2 separate regions of the Homo sapiens genome follow, and region 2 is reported to be linked to region 1. Evidence: microRNA targets listed by miRTarBase, many of them from high-throughput screens and not tested one by one. Region 1 holds a microRNA gene; the other region holds the end of a gene's coding sequence.

Region 1 (4,069 bases):
TAGTATCCAGGTTTGTGCTGAAAGCTGTTTCTCTTTCCTTAGTGTTTGGTGCTGGCACCAACTCGGGAACTGGCCCAACAGGTGCAGCAAGTAGCTGCTGAATATTGTAGAGCATGTCGCTTGAAGTCTACTTGTATCTACGGTGGTGCTCCTAAGGGACCACAAATACGTGATTTGGAGAGAGGTATGTAATGAAAAGGGTTTTATTTGTCATTGGTGCTAAATATCCTAGGTATTGTAGTTACACTTACGTATTTAATTAAAGGTGTGGAAATCTGTATTGCAACACCTGGAAGACTGATTGACTTTTTAGAGTGTGGAAAAACCAATCTGAGAAGAACAACCTACCTTGTCCTTGATGAAGCAGATAGAATGCTTGATATGGGCTTTGAACCCCAAATAAGGAAGATTGTGGATCAAATAAGAGTAAGTGTCCTTTGAAATATGTGATCAAACTGAATTGTGTTTTCACTCTTAAGAGTCTGATACTAATTTTTCCCCCCAAAATCCATTAGCCTGATAGGCAAACTCTAATGTGGAGTGCGACTTGGCCAAAAGAAGTAAGACAGCTTGCTGAAGATTTCCTGAAAGACTATATTCATATAAACATTGGTGCACTTGAACTGAGTGCAAACCACAACATTCTTCAGATTGTGGATGTGTGTCATGACGTAGAAAAGGATGAAAAGTAAGTTTTATTAACTCTGTTATATTTGCTTCCTAACAACTTTGCTGTAAAATTGAGGGATCATTGTTTGGTGAGTTGTTTTAGGTTATTTCAGTTGGTGTGATTTCATTTAGTTAGCCTACTAATCCTGAAAATTTCTTGAATCCTTCAAATAATGGCTGTCACCATTTATAGCTTTCCTATAGAAGGAATTCATGTGTCCCCTGGTTGACTTAAGGACCAAGGGTCGAACTGCTCGATAAGTGGATTAGCAGGCGTTTCCTCTTTGACTTCCAGCCATGTAAATTGAACTTAATGTTTTGCTGACCATAAATGTGTGGCCCTAGCAATGGTCTTTTAAAACTCAGGATTTTTCCTTTCTCTCTCCTATTATTAGACTTATTCGTCTAATGGAAGAGATCATGAGTGAGAAGGAGAATAAAACCATTGTTTTTGTGGAAACCAAAAGAAGATGTGATGAGCTTACCAGAAAAATGAGGAGAGATGGGTATGTGTGAGCTCCTCCATTGAAGCAGATTGATTAAAACAGCTTAGGAAAGGGCAAACTTGGATCACGAGCAGTGGATTTTTTTCATATCTGATAGTGAATTTAACTTTTTCATTTCTGGCGAAATTAAAGAGATCTGTGACCAAAAGTGGTCAAGCACTGGAGTCTGAGGTTTTCAATGTGAGTTTAATAACACAACTTGTCTTTTAACTTAGGTGGCCTGCCATGGGTATCCATGGTGACAAGAGTCAACAAGAGCGTGACTGGGTTCTAAATGGTAAATATTTCAAATGAAGTATTTTTCCCCCTTACTTAACCTAGCTAGAATTCTGCTCAGATAATTGATCATGTATATGCCTTCCTTTGTAGAATTCAAACATGGAAAAGCTCCTATTCTGATTGCTACAGATGTGGCCTCCAGAGGGCTAGGTTAGTACAAACTCGCATTCATGGCTTGGTTTCCCAGAAGATCTCCATTTAACTTTTTTAAAGAAAGTTTATTGCTTTCTTTAACCTGCATTTTTTCTAAGTTTTTTTTCACATAAAGGTGCTGTCTTTGTGGCAAGGCCTAGGCATGACAATCGGAGGACTCGAGGGGGATGGAGGACTAGTGATCGGCTGGCTGCTTCCAGTCGATTAGAGAGGTGAAAAAGCTGAACGTGTGCCAGTAATCTTCAAAAGGCAGAACATATCACCTCTGCCCCGTAAACTGTTCTCTCCGAGGGAAAAAATGGAAGTTATCCTCACAGTTCACTGCCGTGGTATTTCTTCTGTCCCATGCTTTGCATGACTGCCATGGTACAGCCTTGTTTCAAACTGTTCACTGTGATCTGTGGGTCTTTGAGTTTCAGTGAGTTTGCTGAAATGTCGAAGAAGTAGTTCCAAACTTCAATGTTCAATGAAATTTTTGTTCAAGTTTGAAATGGAGAGAGCAGCTTTAAAAGGTACTAAGCCTTTTACAAATTGGTGAGTACTGGCACATGAGATCTAGAGCAGGAGCAACTTCTCACACATAGTAAGTGGGAAAAGAAAGTGCTTTGAAAGTTCCTCCCTCACCTACACAGTAGTCGTCATGTCGAGACCTGCCAGAGAGAGACACATTCTCAAGTGAATCCTGGCTTCTTGGAAGCGCTTGCCTAGACGAGACACAGTGCATAAAAACAACTTTTGGGGGACAGGTATGTTTTCTTGCAGCTGCGGTTGTAAGGTCTTGGCAAGACAAGCAGTGTGGCCAGAATTTTGAACTTCTGATGAATGTGTAATGCAAAGGACCTTGTACATTTTTTTGTTTCAAGGTCCTCAAAATGAGCACATGAAGAGGTTGCTGTGAAACTTTAAGTGGCCCTACTGCGCAGAAGCATTCAGATGTCACTTGATGATCTGTAAGGGAACTTGCTGATTTGGGAATGTGCTTAGGGAACACACATTCCTTTTGACAGGGTCTGTCACTGGGTGGGTGATGAATTATACAGATGACATGTGCTTTTTTTTCTTTTTTCAACCTCAATGGTATTCCTACAGGAAATGGATAACCATTTTAACTGTATTTTTTGCAGCCCGTACCTTCTTGGGAATACAATTGTCTAACTTTTTATTTTTGGTCTGGCTGTTGTGGTGTGCAAAACTCCGTACATTGCTATTTTGCCACACTGCAACACCTTACAGATGTGGAAGATGTGAAATTTGTCATCAATTATGACTACCCTAACTCCTCAGAGGATTATATTCATCGAATTGGAAGAACTGCTCGCAGTACCAAAACAGGCACAGCATACACTTTCTTTACACCTAATAACATAAAGCAAGTGAGCGACCTTATCTCTGTGCTTCGTGAAGCTAATCAAGCAATTAATCCCAAGTTGCTTCAGTTGGTCGAAGACAGAGGTTCAGGTAAGGATGACTGATAGGAAATGTTGGTAGTTACGAGTCACATCGTTGTCTACAAATCCATTTAAATGGTATTGGAGGGTGAGTAAAACCTTGAATGTGAAAACTTAAGCTGAAAAATTGTAAAAACATTTCACGCCTACCATGAATAGATCTGTTTCTTTCTGTCCACAATGATTTGTGTCATAGACATAATTGATCAATTTGCAATTGTTTTCTTGACAGGTCGTTCCAGGGGTAGAGGAGGCATGAAGGATGACCGTCGGGACAGATACTCTGCGGGCAAAAGGGGTGGATTTAATACCTTTAGAGACAGGGAAAATTATGACAGAGGTTACTCTAGCCTGCTTAAAAGAGATTTTGGGGCAAAAACTCAGAATGGTGTTTACAGTGCTGCAAATTACACCAATGGGAGCTTTGGAAGTAATTTTGTGTCTGCTGGTATACAGACCAGTTTTAGGACTGGTAATCCAACAGGGACTTACCAGAATGGTTATGATAGCACTCAGCAATACGGAAGTAATGTTCCAAATATGCACAATGGTATGAACCAACAGGCATATGCATATCCTGCTACTGCAGCTGCACCTATGATTGGTTATCCAATGCCAACAGGATATTCCCAATAAGACTTTAGAAGTATATGTAAATGTCTGTTTTTCATAATTGCTCTTTATATTGTGTGTTATCTGACAAGATAGTTATTTAAGAAACATGGGAATTGCAGAAATGACTGCAGTGCAGCAGTAATTATGGTGCACTTTTTCGCTATTTAAGTTGGATATTTCTCTACATTCCTGAAACAATTTTTAGGTTTTTTTTGTACTAGAAAATGCAGGCAGTGTTTTCACAAAAGTAAATGTACAGTGATTTGAAATACAATAAATGAAGGCAATGCATGGCCTTCCAATAAAAAATATTTGAAGACTGAATTAAGTGGAAATTGTACTTTATTTTATATAATGTCATGTAAAACTTTGCTTAAGATGGTCTGGTTTTTTTTTTGT
Region 2 (4,069 bases), not on the chromosome of region 1:
AACCCTCTGTACTTGTGCTTTACCCTCAGCATATAATCCTTTTTCTGTCTGAAACACTCTCAATCCTACCTTTCCCTCCAATCTTCTTTAAATGAGTCAACAAGTCTTCCACACCTCCCATTGTCTTCAACCTAGCAAAGCCAGCTGTGTGCCAACAGTCCCCACAATCCCCTGACGCTGCTCTTGAGGGGCTCACTGTGAGAAGGGCCCTCAGCAATCCCATTCCCAGGCCTCTTTGCAGCATTGGGTTCTGCTGGCATGCTTCGAAACGCTCTTCATTGCTTTCTCGGCATTGCACTCTCCCTCCTGGCTTCCTCCAACCCACAGCTGCTCCCCTGCTGGCTCCCCCTCCTCCTCCTCCAGATTCTCTTCTCCTCATATGCTCCATAGATGATCCCATCGCACTGCAGCCTGACCTCCATCTCCACGTTCAAGTCTCTCAATTCTAACTCCAGACATTCTTTTTAAATTCCAAAGTCTAGTATCCAACTGCCTATATTCAGTCTAGTCACATCGAATCTTTCCAAAACTCATCATTTCTCCCATCCCCTGGCCTCTGTCTTAGCAAATGGTCCAGCCATCCACTCATTCCCCAAAGCCTGGTATCTGGGCACTGCTGGCAGCAGCAAGGATGCACCACTCTCCTGCCCCTCACCTTTCTAGCTGCTGTTTACCCTAAGATGTTCTTCCTTTCCTTAAAAACTGTATTTGACATATACAAACATTACCTACAAAATCACCATACCAGATTTTAGGTTATCATTCCACTTTGCCTTTATTTTTTATAATATATTTAAGTAGAACATATTTAATATGTAAAAAACTGTTATCTATTAGTTATAAAGTATAATGTATTAATAGCATATAGTAAACACTTGTAAGCCTACCAGGAGGAACCAGAACAGCTGCATAACTTGGCATCTACCTATGTGCTCCTGTCCCTTCCACTTCCTCCTTCTGTGGGTAATTACTATGCTCAATTTTGGTTTATCAGTTACCTTCTTTTTTTTTAATAGCATAGTTTTATTGTATACGTATGCTTAGACTACATATTCTTTGGTTTTGCTTGTTTTTGGGCTCAATAAAAATAGTACGCCCCATGTGGTCTCTTCAAACTTGCTTTTTTCCTTAATATTTTCTGAGATTCATTCTTATTGTGAGGTATAGCTGTAGTTCACTCATTTCCACTACTGAATAATATCCCGTAGAATGAATATATATATCTAATTATTCACCTATTTTCCTGTAGACAGACATACATTTCACTTTTTCCAGTTATTAACTATTATAAATATGTAACTATGAACATTCTTACACATTCCTCCTAGTGGCCACATGCAAGAGTTTGCTGGACATACAGGTGGGAGTTGGAAGCAAGATCATAACGTCTGCAAATGTTCAAGTCTGTAAGGGATAATTGTTTTTTAAAGCAGTGGTGCCTGTTTACACATCCACAATGTTGTACAAGTCCCTACAGATCTAACAACTGGTACTGTCAGACCCAACCTTTGCAAATCTTATGGATATAAAATGGAATCTCATTGTGGTCCTAATTCATATTTCCCTGACCAATGCTACAGAACATCTATTTATTTAAAAGCCCTATTTCCTCTTGTGTAGTCTTCACTATTTTTCTATTTTTTTAAATAGGAATTCTCTATATTTGTGATTATGAATCCTTCATCAGTTATTTGTATTATAAATGTCTTCTCAAGTTGTGGATCATCTTCTCACTTCAAGTGTTTGCTTAATATAAGCCTTGAGTTTTAACAGAATTGACTTAACCATCTTGTCCTTTATGATTACTACTTTATGTCTCAAGAGATTCTTTCCTGCCCTAAGGCTTTTTTCATCCAAACACTGACAATTTTTGCTTTTTGTATTAAAGCCCTTAACATATTTGGAACTTATCACCAGGTAAGGTGAGAGAAAGTAAAATTTCTTTTTTTCCCACATGAATAGCCATTGTTCTGGGATTACTTAGGGAGTGGTCCTTCCTGTCCCCACTGACTTGCCATGTCACCAGGTCATTTTGCAAAGGTCAACATATGCACGGGTGAGTTTCTAGGCCCTTATTTTGTTCCCCTGCTCAGAATGCCTACCTCTGCACCATGACACTGTCTTGACAATAAAACTTGGTATCACATAGGGTGCGTGTCCCCAACCTCTCCTTCATATTTAGAAGCATTTGGTAATTTTAAGTCCTTTGCTACTCCATATAAACACCTGCTTGTTTCATTCAATAAAATCTGTTGGAATTTCCATTGAAAATGGTATTAAATCCATAGATCAATTTTAGGAGACCTGATACCTTTATAATCTTGAATATTCCTATTCATGAACAAAGATGGTTCTTCATTTGTTCCTCCCTTGCTTCTTCGTCTTCATCCTTCGAATCAAACCAGGACTCCAATGTTACCTTCTCCTGACTATTGCCACCACCATCTTGAAGTAGGATGAGTGTATATTTTGCATGCAAATTTTTGAAATAACTGCAATCATCCAAGAAAAAGATGACATGGTTGAGTTTGAGGCTTGTTGCTTGAGTGGTGGCACCATTCTTCATTACTGAATATATTGAGAATTGAGGGGAATAAAATGGTAAGAAATGAGTGACTTTATGCTGCCCACTTGTCCAACTCCGCACGGGATATCAGAGCCCAGCTGAGAACCTGCTCAATCCTGGAAACAATTAAAAGATGTTAACCGGCCAGGCTCGGTGGCTCACGCCTGTAATCCCAGCATTTTGGGAGGCTGAGGTGGGCAGATCACGAGGTCGGGAGATCAAGACCATCCTGGCTAACACAGTGAAATCCTGTCTCTACTTTTTTGTATTTTGTAAAAACACAAAAAATTAGCCGGGTGTGGTGGCGGGCACCTGTAGTCCCAGCTACTCTGGAGGCTGAGGCAGGAGAATGGCATGAACCCAGGAGGCGGAGCTTGCTATGAGCCGAGATTGCGCCCCTGCACTCCAGCCTGGGCGACAGAGCCAGACTCTGTCTCAAAAAAAAAAAAACCAAAACAAAACAAAACAAAAAAAATGTTAACCACCCTTAACAGTAACTTTCTCTCCTCATTTCCTTTTTGTTTCCTCAGGGGTACGGAAATATGAAATTATGGGAGGACGAAAATGCCCAGAAAGCATGGCTGCTTGACCACACTGGGGCAAATGGCTTCAGTGTTTCTGACAAGCAAGCAGTGAGCGCATGCCTTTTGCCAAAGGGAGTTCTGCAGCCATTTAGTCCAGCCTTTAGAAAACGAGGTCTTCCGAAGAGAACAGAGCTACACCTTCCCCGTCAGAATCCACTGTTATAACCACTTAGATTAAAATGCCCCATTTCTCACAGTATCATTTTGTCACAGGGTCACACTTCTCTATTCAACTCAGTTTCAGGCTTTTCTTCTAAGAGGAAAAAAAGACGACTAAGTGGCCTCCTAGATTCCACTGTAAAAACAGAAAAAAGCAGGTTGACTTGCTTTGAAATCAAACGACCTCTGTCTTCAGTCTGTCCCCATCTCAGAGGGACCAGGGAAACCACAGGAACCCTGCTCACTGCTCTTCACGCAAGGTCCCAAAAAAACAGCGCCTGTTTTCCAGGCACTGCAGGAAGACCCTGCTCCTCTACAAGGTTCCACTAAATAGTCTTCGAAAACCAGAAGCAGGTAAGTGTCAGCCAGATGCACACAGGTTTTTTGTTGTTGTTATTTTTAAGGCACCCTAGGTTGTATTTCCTTGAGGATCATCAAGAATAAAAAAGGCAAAAAAAAAAAAAAAGTTAGTCTGTATCATATCCCAAAATGGGTCCAAGCCATTTCTCAACCTCAGCCACAGATATGTTCTTCCTCAATGCATAATCCTCAACCTGCAAAAGATGAGAAGCATTTTATTAAACCAACATGATAAGACTTTTGGAATAGAAGTTTCCACAAGATTTGCCAAGAAACATTAAGTACCTTGCATTTCTTGTCTTAATAGCAATCTACAGAGTTAAATGGAGATAGATATTTATCTACCAAGTTGCCTTTTTCTCTGGGCAGAAAAACATGTAGTAAACATCTGATGCTTAGA

Evidence for each region. Region 1 holds the annotated microRNA hsa-miR-3064-3p (UUGCCACACUGCAACACCUUACA, at 2,817-2,839, shown strand). A microRNA usually pairs through its seed, bases 2 to 8, with sites in the 3' UTR of a target mRNA and lowers its output. Matches are read on the target gene's strand: a 7mer-m8 pairs with bases 2 to 8, a 7mer-A1 pairs with bases 2 to 7 and ends in A, and an 8mer does both.
Region 2: the mRNA of MTR is a reported target of hsa-miR-3064-3p. Seed matches in the 3' UTR shown: 7mer-A1 at 2,433-2,439.

Annotation. Positions count from the first base shown.
Region 1 is chr17:64,499,545-64,503,613 of GRCh38, reverse strand. It overlaps MIR3064 (microRNA 3064), which reads left to right and starts at 2,775; the gene lies at 2,775-2,840. DDX5 (DEAD-box helicase 5) reads left to right here. Exons shown (of 13, transcript NM_004396.5): 6 at 43-184; 7 at 266-426; 8 at 516-688; 9 at 1,065-1,175; 10 at 1,391-1,452; 11 at 1,545-1,604; 12 at 2,841-3,065; 13 at 3,288-4,069. The coding sequence ends at 3,691. It overlaps MIR5047 (microRNA 5047), which reads left to right and starts at 2,301; the gene lies at 2,301-2,400.
Region 2 is chr1:236,897,352-236,901,420 of GRCh38, reverse strand. It overlaps MTR (5-methyltetrahydrofolate-homocysteine methyltransferase), which reads right to left. Exons shown (of 33, transcript NM_000254.3): 33 at 1-3,863. The coding sequence ends at 3,777. Among named protein-coding and RNA genes, the nearest start is that of MTR, 100 kb to the right of the region's middle.